Regions from separate parts of the Homo sapiens genome. Here region 2 is reported to be linked to region 1. The links are microRNA targets in miRTarBase. Many come from high-throughput screens and were not tested one by one. Region 1 holds a microRNA gene; the other region holds the end of a gene's coding sequence.

Evidence for each region. The annotated mature microRNA hsa-miR-5571-5p reads CAAUUCUCAAAGGAGCCUCCC and lies in region 1 at 2,702-2,722, opposite strand. An mRNA with a match to its seed (bases 2 to 7 or 8) in the 3' UTR can be bound and repressed. Matches are read on the target gene's strand: a 7mer-m8 pairs with bases 2 to 8, a 7mer-A1 pairs with bases 2 to 7 and ends in A, and an 8mer does both.
Region 2: miRTarBase lists ACO1 as a target of hsa-miR-5571-5p. Seed matches in the 3' UTR shown: 7mer-m8 at 2,674-2,680.

What each region holds. Positions count from the first base shown.
Region 1 is chr22:22,883,852-22,889,012 of GRCh38, reverse strand. MIR5571 (microRNA 5571) reads right to left here and starts at 2,746; the gene lies at 2,634-2,746. IGLL5 (immunoglobulin lambda like polypeptide 5) reads right to left here and starts at 1,197. Exons shown (of 3, transcript NM_001178126.2): 1 at 754-1,197. The coding sequence starts at 959. LOC105372948 (a long non-coding RNA gene) reads left to right here and starts at 4,414. Exons shown (of 4, transcript XR_938047.2): 1 at 4,414-5,074. It also overlaps IGL.
Region 2 is chr9:32,449,299-32,454,298 of GRCh38, forward strand. ACO1 (aconitase 1) reads left to right here. Exons shown (of 21, transcript NM_002197.3): 21 at 700-5,000. The coding sequence ends at 813. Among named protein-coding and RNA genes, the nearest start is that of ACO1, 67 kb to the left of the region's middle.

The sequences.
Region 1 (5,161 bases):
CCTCCCCTTCCCAGTCACCCAGGAGCTCCCAGCCTCATCCTGTGCTCTCCTCTCCTCTGACGCTGCTCTGTCTTTTGGGGGCACCCATCACCAGCCAGTGCCCCTCGATCTGTGAGACCAGCCTGGGCATCATCCCAGAGGGAGATCCCCTCTCCCTTTATTGCTCCAAACATGGGCCGTGGGCCTGTTCCAATGACTGGACAGCTCCCCTCGGTTCATCCCACCCTCCCTGTGTCCTTGAGCCTGGCCCCAGTAAGCATTTATGTGCAAGTTGGTGAACAGACAGCCTTGGGGGAGACCAAACCAAGCCCTTGCTGCCTTCTCCAGGGAGTGGCCCCTGCCCTCACTGGGCAGGAGGCACATGGGCAGAGAGGAGGAGGGGGAGGAACAGGCCTGGGCACCCTGTGGGGACAGTGGCCACCACCCCCTGTGGATGTCCTGTCCCTGCCTCTGTTCCTTCCCTACCCAGAGGACTAGGACTAGGTGATTGAGGCACTGACCCTGGTGAAAATTTAAGTGGCGCCAGAAAACTCAGAAATCAAGAAAAATAATATCGTAATATGATATTAAAAACAGTAATTCAAACAAATCTGTGATGGACAAAATATCAACCCATTACTAAAGCCAGTGTCAGCCCAGGCCCCTCTTAGGGGTTAACCTTCCTCCTCACTCCTCTGGCTTGTCTCCCCTTGGTCACCCTTTCCCAGCTCTGCTGCAGGACCCCCACATCCCCTGGAATCTCTTGCCCCTTACCTGCCCCACAGGCTCCGCAGGCTGGATCGGCTGCTTCCAACTGAGGCTCCAGGGTCTGGGTCCCCGCTTTGCGGTGCAACCATTGGGCGCAGCAGGCCATGGGCGACCATGGCCAGACCCAGCAGCAGCAGGGGCCAGCGCTGCCTGGGACCAGGGCCCAGCTCCTCAGGGGTCTCACAACCCACTTGGCCTGTCTTGGGTCTCATTGGCCTTCAGGTTCAGGGGCACCTCTGGCCCGACTTGCAGCATGGGCTCCCTGGAGGACGGTGCCCTGGTCCCTCTCGCCAGCAGGGCTGTTACAGTACACCCCAGTCCATTGGCTCTGTCCTCTCCCTGGACTGGCTCTGGTCCCTGTCCCTAGCCCAGGCCCTTCCAGGGTCCATGGCTGTCACCCCTGGGGATCTCTCCCAGAGGGGCATCTACCAACTGCCCTGAAGCGGTCACAATCCAGGGCTCAACTGCCTCCCACCACAGCCGGCTGCCTGGCCCCGCCCCTGGGTGGTGCACACCTGACCCACTTGTCTTCCCCACTTCCCAAAGGGCAGCCTGGGTCTGTGGAGCATCTCCCTAGGGCCTAGAGAGCTGCCCAGCAGGAGTCCCCAAGGGCTTGAGCTCAGGGGGTTGGGGCTGGGGCTGGAGCTGTGGCTTCTTTTCTGATCAGTCTTCCAGGCTGGGTGCCTGTACACTGCACTCCAGCCAGTTGGGACCAGCCCTTTCTTGGCTGGGTTGGTTAAGCCTGGCTGGCTATCCTGTGGCCCTTTCCTGAGTCAGGCAAGAGCCCTGCAGGGAGTGATTCTATATCCTTCAGGCAAGGAAGAGTGGTGAAGTCATAAATGTGGAGTCTATCTAGACCTAGGTTACCTCTGGGCCTCAGTTTCCTTATCTGTAAAATGGGGAGAGTTCCTCTGCAGCATGAAGCTTATGAGAGTTAAAGAAACCATGTGTTTGCTAAGCACTCAGTGGGTGTTGAATAAATTCTGGTTCTTTTTTTGTTCTTCTCTTACTTTGGGATTCACAACTACTTGTGGGGTGTCCTTGGGGCCAGTGTCTCTGTTTTACAGGTGAGAAAATTACCATCCAGAGAAGATGAATGCAGGGTCCAATATCATTCCTTAAGTAGGGAGCAAGCTGCGCTAGGATCTAGGAAGGGGCTCGTCCCCTGTATTTCTATTCGTCTGTCCACCTGGAATACTCGTGCCTGGCTCCATTCGGCAGTGGTGGAGGAGGAGAGGGCTGGCAGGTGCTTTAAGTTGGGGTCCTTTTTGACTATAATATGGGAATATGATGCATAATACAATAATAATGCATTACATTATTATTGCTTTACAAGCACTAATCCTGGGAGCTAAGATCATCTACTGTCCTCCACATTTGAAGATGAGGAAATGCTGCTCAGGCTGATTCCCTACTCTTTTAATGTCACAGGGCCAAGAGGCAGTAGGTCTGGAGTCGGAATCTGAGGCCTGGTCCTTGCATGACACTAGGGCGTGCTTTGCTGATGATGACATGGCTCTCTGGGTCTAGGTGGTAACACACTGCTTGGTGCATGGGAAAACCCAGAGCTTGGCACAAAGGAGTGGCTCAATTAAACATGGACTAAATCTGGTTGAATAAACCTCTTTTGCTTCATGTGACCCCTTGTGTCATTTGCACTCCTTTACGCCCCATTCATCGCTCCCATCTTTTCTGTTGCCCTGAGAGCCTAGTATAAAAATGTTTGAGGAGATCTTCAGGACCCCATACTCTGGTGAGAAAGGCCCCTGCTCTGCCCCCTTACATTACAGAACTGCAATGAGGGTCTGCCCTCTTGCTTTCCAGTTTCTTTTTCTGCCACAAAATCTTTAAAAATATCTGCTCAAGTTCAGATCTGCAGCCCTCTAGGACTCTCAATGTTTTGTTTTAGCAACTCTCAGAGGAGCCTCCTAGGACTTCCTAAAGTGAATTTCCTGGGAGGCTCCTTTGAGAATTGCTTGGTTCACATTTTGTGTCAGATACTCCTTAACTTCCTTGATACATTTGGTGACAATCAAGCCAGACATTTTTGTGGGCTATGGTAACAGACAAATAGCCTGAGACTTCATTTCATTGATAAAGTTGATGGTTGTTGGGAGACAGTGGTCTACTATGGATCTCTGCATTTCTGCATGTCTCTCGGGCAAAGGCACTGATTGTGGATTATCTTTTCAAGAGTGTTTGTGGAGTGAACAACCTCGGAAGGTACAGAGAATGCCTCTCTTTGGAGCAAAACACAGATATATGCTTACTGTCAAGTATGAAATATTTGGGATCCCTGAGCTCTGGCATGCAGATGTCACCTGGCCCTCTTTGCATCACCTTGTGGAACTGGTGCAAGACAATGCTGATACCTTGGCAACTGCTATTGCTGTGAAAAACAGATTATTCGTTGTCTCTGACCCAGGAGTCTTGTATCTTCTGCCAGCATCCATGGCACTGTGGCAGGCTTACTTTTTAGTCTGCAAATAGGATGAAGTCTCAGACTCTTAACAGTTCTTGAAGGTGATGATAATGAGGAGGAGGAGGAAGAAAGAGATGAAGTTGAGGATGGTGATCATGACTTAATGGTTCGACTCATCGAATCGGTTTTCAAAGATCTCCAGGCTGGATCTTTATACACATTGCTTGGGTAACTTTTGAGGACCAGGTGCTGGGGGCTGGATTATACAAATAATCACCACACATCCCTGTCCTTCAAAATAGGCAAGGCACTGAGCAGTAACAGGGTGTAGGTGCCCTAACAGACATCATTCAGGGCACAAGGGAGGGCCCTGGGAAACCCCTGGTCCAGCACAGCTTCTCCACTGGGGAGCTTGGCCTATTCCTGCCTCTGATCTTGGGCTCCTTGGATATTCGGGGCTGGGGCAGGGTCTGCCCTGGGAGTCTAGGCTGAAGCTGCTCCCTTCCAGCCCCTCTGTGGGTATGACACTCACCCACTGCTCAGGACCCAGAAGCTGTGGTTCCTTTCAGGGACAGTCCCAGGTCTTGGGGATAAAAAGGGGCTGTCCCTAAATGTAGCATCCCCAGCTGCTGCCCCTACCCCCACCCTTGCACCTGCCATGGCCTCTGGATAGACATCGTCACCGCAGACCACATCCTTCCATGGTGGCTGCAGTCGGAAATCCGAGTCTGTCTGGGGACCCTGGAGGACTGGACTAGGCCTCCCCAGCAGGTGCAGCTGCAGCTCTGGCCACCCAGGCCTATCCCCTGCCCTGAGATGTGCAAGGGCTGGATCCAGGCCTGGGCAGAAGCAGCCAAGTCCAGCTGTCCTGTTTGGCAGACCCCCTGCTGAGGGTCTGTGGTGCCTCTGCAGAGCTCTCTGGGTCCCGCCCTGGCCCTTCTCTCCCAAAGCAGAGGGATGTACCCCATCCAGTTGCTTCTGCCCTGCTCCATGTCTGAGGGTATCCCCCACCTTGGCCTTCTGCTGGTCAGTCCCCTGCCCAGTCTCCATCCCCCAGGTCCCAGAAACTCCACCTGCAGGCACTGCAGACTCCTCTCCCCCAGGTCCAGGGGTCCCCAGCTCCCCACTCCCCACCATCCCTAAATTCAAGCTGGCTGGTCTTTCTTGTCTCATCTTGAGCTTCTCACTCTTGGGATCTGGGGGAGTCTGAGGCACAGGATGACAAAGTATTGGCTGGGGATATGACAAAGGTTCTGGATCTCTGAGTCCCCAGAGTTAGAAGCTGGCTCTGCAGCTCCTGATCCCCCTCTGAGGAGTCCTCAGGAACCCCAAAGACCCCAGCTCCTCTGGTGATCCTGGGTTGCAGCCTCCACCCCAGCTCTCCTCCAGGAAATGGAAGAGATCCCTGCTCCCTTTGTAGATGTCACAGAGTGGACTTGCCAACCTGGCAGGGAGGTCTTCTAGCTACTTCTACCAGTGTGGAAACACAGTCTCAGAGAGGGAGAGTTTCTTGCCCAAGGCACACAGCGACTTGGTGTAAAGACTGTGTCTTGGGACTTACTAATAGCAATCAAAGACCTGGAGGACCAGCCTTTTTGGACATGAGGTGGAGCCAGCCTGGAACTGGAGGGTGGAGTTTTGGGAGGTTTCTGTTCTTTAACCTCCACCAGCTGCCTGGAGTGCAGCTGTAAGGGGAGAATCCAGTAGGGGGCAGAAGAGACCAGCAGTAGAGGAAGCCTGAGGAGGAACTGGCTGGAGCTCTTCAGAAGAGAAAGGCCAAGACCCAGGGGAGGGCTCTGGTGGCCGGGCAGAAGGCGGTGCAGGGGCCTGACTCTGGTTTTGCATCCCTGTGGGTACTCACTCACCTGTGGGACTGTGGGTAGGACCAAGAACAAAACCACTGAGGTGAGTGAGTCAGATCCTGAAATTTTGTTCATTGTGGGTTTGTTGGGCATTAATTTTGATTTTTGAAAATATTGCATTAAGTATTAT
Region 2 (5,000 bases), not on the chromosome of region 1:
CCTCAGTTCCATTCTTACCTCCCACCCCCTACTGTACCCTGTTCCCGGTCTCTCGTGATGAGAGCTCAGGGATGTGACATTTCACATTACCTAAAACATTTCACTATAAAAACGTGAGCAACAGATATACTCACCCCTCCCTAAGCCTGCCCATAGGCACCAGGCTTTGATTAGCCCAAGAGTGAAAATGATAGATCCCTAGGCAAGGTAAAGATAAAGTGCCCAGCACCAGGTCCCAGGGGTCATTCGGTGCCCCAGACAGAGGCAGTGCAAAAGTCTGTGTCTCAGATAAGCAGATGGGCCAGCTGCCTAAGGGACAACCTTAATGAAATCTCTGCTGATTGAATACTTCTGTCCACAGGGAGCCCCCAGAGGTTTAGAAAATACCACCCTGATGTCATTAATAGCTACTGCCCTGAGAAGCTATTTCTAGTTCTTAGATGGCTCTCACCCCCATCATTTACAGTCTGCAGTGATTCTCAAACTGTAATGGGCAAAGCAGCCTCCCAGAGATCTTGCTGAAATGCATCTTCTGATTTAGTGGGTCTGGGCTGGGGCCAGCAGCCTTGCATGTCCTCATGTGCTGCTGGTGTTACTGAAGTGTGGACCACACCTGAGGGGCAGGCTGGGCAGAATTTCCTCCGAGCAGAGCTGTCTCGCCACCTCCCTCAATGATGCTTCTGTTTCTTTGTGCCACAGCTGGATACTGGCAAGACCTTCCAGGCTGTCATGAGGTTTGACACTGATGTGGAGCTCACTTATTTCCTCAACGGGGGCATCCTCAACTACATGATCCGCAAGATGGCCAAGTAGGAGACGTGCACTTGGTGCTGCGCCCAGGGAGGAAGCCGCACCACCAGCCAGCGCAGGCCCTGGTGGAGAGGCCTCCCTGGCTGCCTCTGGGAGGGGTGCTGCCTTGTAGATGGAGCAAGTGAGCACTGAGGGTCTGGTGCCAATCCTGTAGGCACAAAACCAGAAGTTTCTACATTCTCTATTTTTGTTAATCATCTTCTCTTTTTCCAGAATTTGGAAGCTAGAATGGTGGGAATGTCAGTAGTGCCAGAAAGAGAGAACCAAGCTTGTCTTTAAAGTTACTGATCACAGGACGTTGCTTTTTCACTGTTTCCTATTAATCTTCAGCTGAACACAAGCAAACCTTCTCAGGAGGTGTCTCCTACCCTCTTATTGTTCCTCTTACGCTCTGCTCAATGAAACCTTCCTCTTGAGGGTCATTTTCCTTTCTGTATTAATTATACCAGTGTTAAGTGACATAGATAAGAACTTTGCACACTTCAAATCAGAGCAGTGATTCTCTCTTCTCTCCCCTTTTCCTTCAGAGTGAATCATCCAGACTCCTCATGGATAGGTCGGGTGTTAAAGTTGTTTTGATTATGTACCTTTTGATAGATCCACATAAAAAGAAATGTGAAGTTTTCTTTTACTATCTTTTCATTTATCAAGCAGAGACCTTTGTTGGGAGGCGGTTTGGGAGAACACATTTCTAATTTGAATGAAATGAAATCTATTTTCAGTGAAAACTTGTTGACTTTGAGTTTTGCTGTGTTTGTGGCTAGAGTTTTGGGATATTTAGTACAGAGTGAATCTCACACCATATCATTGGGAAGCCTGAATAACCTTCATATTCTCCCATTTTTACAACTCTATCAGAACTGTACGGGTATAACGGAAATGTTTAGGAACCATTATGCTCGCTCTTCCCTGTTTGGGAGCAGACAAGAAGGAAGAGTAGCCTGGTGGCAGTGGCAACGATATAAGTACATAAGGAAAAGCAGATAAACTTCAGGACACTAAAAACCAATTATCTGCTCATTTTTACCCCTGTAGTCATTTCTGGGCATGCCTTAGTTTGCTTGGGTTGCTATAATGTAATGCCATAGACTGGCTGAAAGAACAGAAATGTATTTTCTCACAGTTATGGAGGCTGGAATTCTGAGATCAAAGTTGAAGCCACTTCATTTTCTGGTGAGGACACTCTTCCTGGTTTACAGATGGCCACCTTCTTGCTTGTTCTCACATGGCATTTCTTTGGTATGTGCCTGGTGGGGGAGAGAGAAAATAGGCTCTCATGTCTCTTCTTACAGCAACACTAATTGTATTGGATCAGGGTCCCACTCTTATGGAGACCCAGGAAAGCTGGTGGTATAACAACTTGGTTCAAGTCCAAATGCCTAAGAACCTGGGGAGGGGCATGGGGAATGCTGGTATAAGTCCCAGAGTCTGAATGCCCAGGAACAAGCAGGAGCTGTGATGTCCAAGGACAGGAGGGCAGGATCTTTGTAATGAATTTTTAATGTCAACCTTAGCACTCAGGGGATATGGCCTGGTCATCAGAACATCTGGAATCTAATCCTCTTTCTACTTCTCACCAGATGAGGGATCAAGACAGGTTATTTAGCATCCCTGCACTTGCGGTCCTGGGGATCTTATTTATATTCATTTAAAAAATAAATTACAAACAAACAGCCAGGCGCAGTGGCTCATGCCTATAATTCCATCACTTTGGGAGGCCGAGGTGGGTAGATCACCTGAGGTCAGGAGTTCTAGACCAGCCTGGCCAACATGGTGAAACCCCGTCTCTACTAAAAATACAAAAAATTAGCCAGGTGTGGTATTGTGTGCCTGTAATCCCAGCTACACAGGAGGCTGAGGCAGGAGAATTGCTTAAACCCGGGATGCAGAGGCTGCAGTGAGCCGAGATCGTGCCATTGCACGCCCGCCTGGGCTACAAGAGCAAAGCTCCGTCTCAAAAAAAAAAAAAAATTACAAACAAACAGAACTCCATTGTACAAAAAAACCTGTGATCCTCAAGTTAAGATCAGTCCTAGAATAAAAACACTAAGAATGGCTGAGAAAACAGACCTCCACCCTCTCAGCTCTCCATTACTGAGCAGCTGGGGAGCTGTCTCGCTCCCCGCATTCAGTGGCTCCTGTGGTCTGTATTTTTGTATCCTCCCCAAAATTCAGGTGGTGAAACCTTAACCCCCCAGGTAATGGTAATAGAAGCTGGGGCCTTTGGAAGGTGATTAGATCATGAGGGTAGTGCCTTTTAAAAGAGACTCAAGATAAGATAGAGACCCCCTCATTTCTTCTGCCATGGGAGAACACAGCAAGAAGTCACCATCCGTGAACCAGAAAGTGGGTTCTCACCAGATACTGAATCTGCCAGTGCCTTGAACCTAGACTTTCCAGCCAGAACTGTGAGAAATTTCTATTGTTTATAAGCCACCCAGTTGATATTTAGTTACAGCAGCCCAACCAAGACTGTGGTTATGAGGAAACAAACACATTATTGTGGCTAGACTAATGGAATTGGGTCCCTTACCTCCAAGTACACCCTCTGTCCTTTTCGGTAAAAATATCTTCGCCAGGCACGGTGTCTCATGCCTATGATCCCAACACTTTGGGAGGCCGAGGCTGGAGGGTTGCTTGAGCCCAGAAGTTTGAGACCAGCCTGGGCAACACTCTACAAAAAAAAAAATAAATAAATAAATAAATAAAATAAATCAGCCAGGTGTGCACCTGTGGTCCCAGCTGTTCAGGAGGCTGAGGTGGGAGGATCACTTGAGCCTGGGAGGTCGTGGCTATGATTGCTCCACTGCACTCCAGCCTGGGCAATAGAGTGAGACCCTATCAATCAATCACCACCCCCCCCCCCCCCAAAAAAAAAAGTATCTTGGCCAGTGTCTCAACCTTGCCCACTAACAAGCCTAAATAAACCAACTTCTTTTACCTGGTTCTTTAAGGGCTGCTCGTCTTACTATCCAAATTAAAAATCTGCTGTTCTCCCTCCCATATTCTTTGCGAATGAAGATTCCCCTGTTTGTTTGGATAGTTTTCCAAATTCATTACTGCATTCCTGGCATCCGCAGCAAGCTAAGAGTTAGTTAATATTTTTAATATAGCAAATAAGGATGAGGGATGCCCTTCATGTGTATTTACACACCAGATTTTTATGGTACATAGGGAGTAATCTAGGGAAAAGATATATTAGGCATGAATCTTAGCTGTGGTAGAAGCACAGCTCAAATTAGCTTAAGGAAAAAAAAAAAAAAGCTGGCTCATAGAACTTGAGGACAGTGGTGGCCATGACTATGGGCTTGATTGGATCTAGTGACTCAAGCTCCCTTCCATTTGCCCCTCCAACCACCCCCCCATCCCTCCACCAATCATACCTTCTGTTGGCCTCTGCAGTAGAGTGGCCTCTTCTGGGCCCTTCCACATGCCAGGGGATATGGCCACCAGCAGTTCTGGGGAAACCATTAGTAATTTGTGATCGTAGAGATTTGTCTCCCAGTATTCCCTAGGGCAAAAATATTGGGAGTTCCTAGTCACCTAAATGAAGAACCTTATTTTTAGCAGTTTCCCTTTCAGGGCTCTAACAGGACTGTGGAGTAATGTACGGGGTTATGTAGGAGCAATGCAGAGCCACTTTTGAAAAACAGTAGCCAAGGTTCTACTGGCTGCCTTCTTAGGACATTATTAAATATCATAAACACAAGTGGAATTTAACACCCAGCCAGTTTGTGTTCAACCAGACAGCGTCATTATGAACAAAGATTATATAACGATAGCTGATATTAAGTAAGTTTTAAAAGTTGACATCCCAAGAGTGAAGCCTACTTATTCAGTACAGATTTGTTGAATGAAATTCGTAGTTTTATTTTACGGCATAATGAAACAGAGTTCCAGACATGTACCTGCCAAATTTGGTTCTGGTTGTCTTATCGTATGCAGGCTGGATACCTGCTACTGTGCTTCTACAGGATGTTAACAGTGTCCCCTGAGTAAAACAGTTCCACGGTCAGTACATTTGGGAACCACTGAGTTAAATGGGTTTTATCACTGCAGAACAGACACAAGAACAATGTGTGCTGTAAATCACTGTTTGCAGGGAAGGTGGCAGCAAATGGCACAGAAACCCACCTGACCACAGACTGCTTTCTTCTGGGCGTTCACGCACTGTGCTCCACAGGATACTC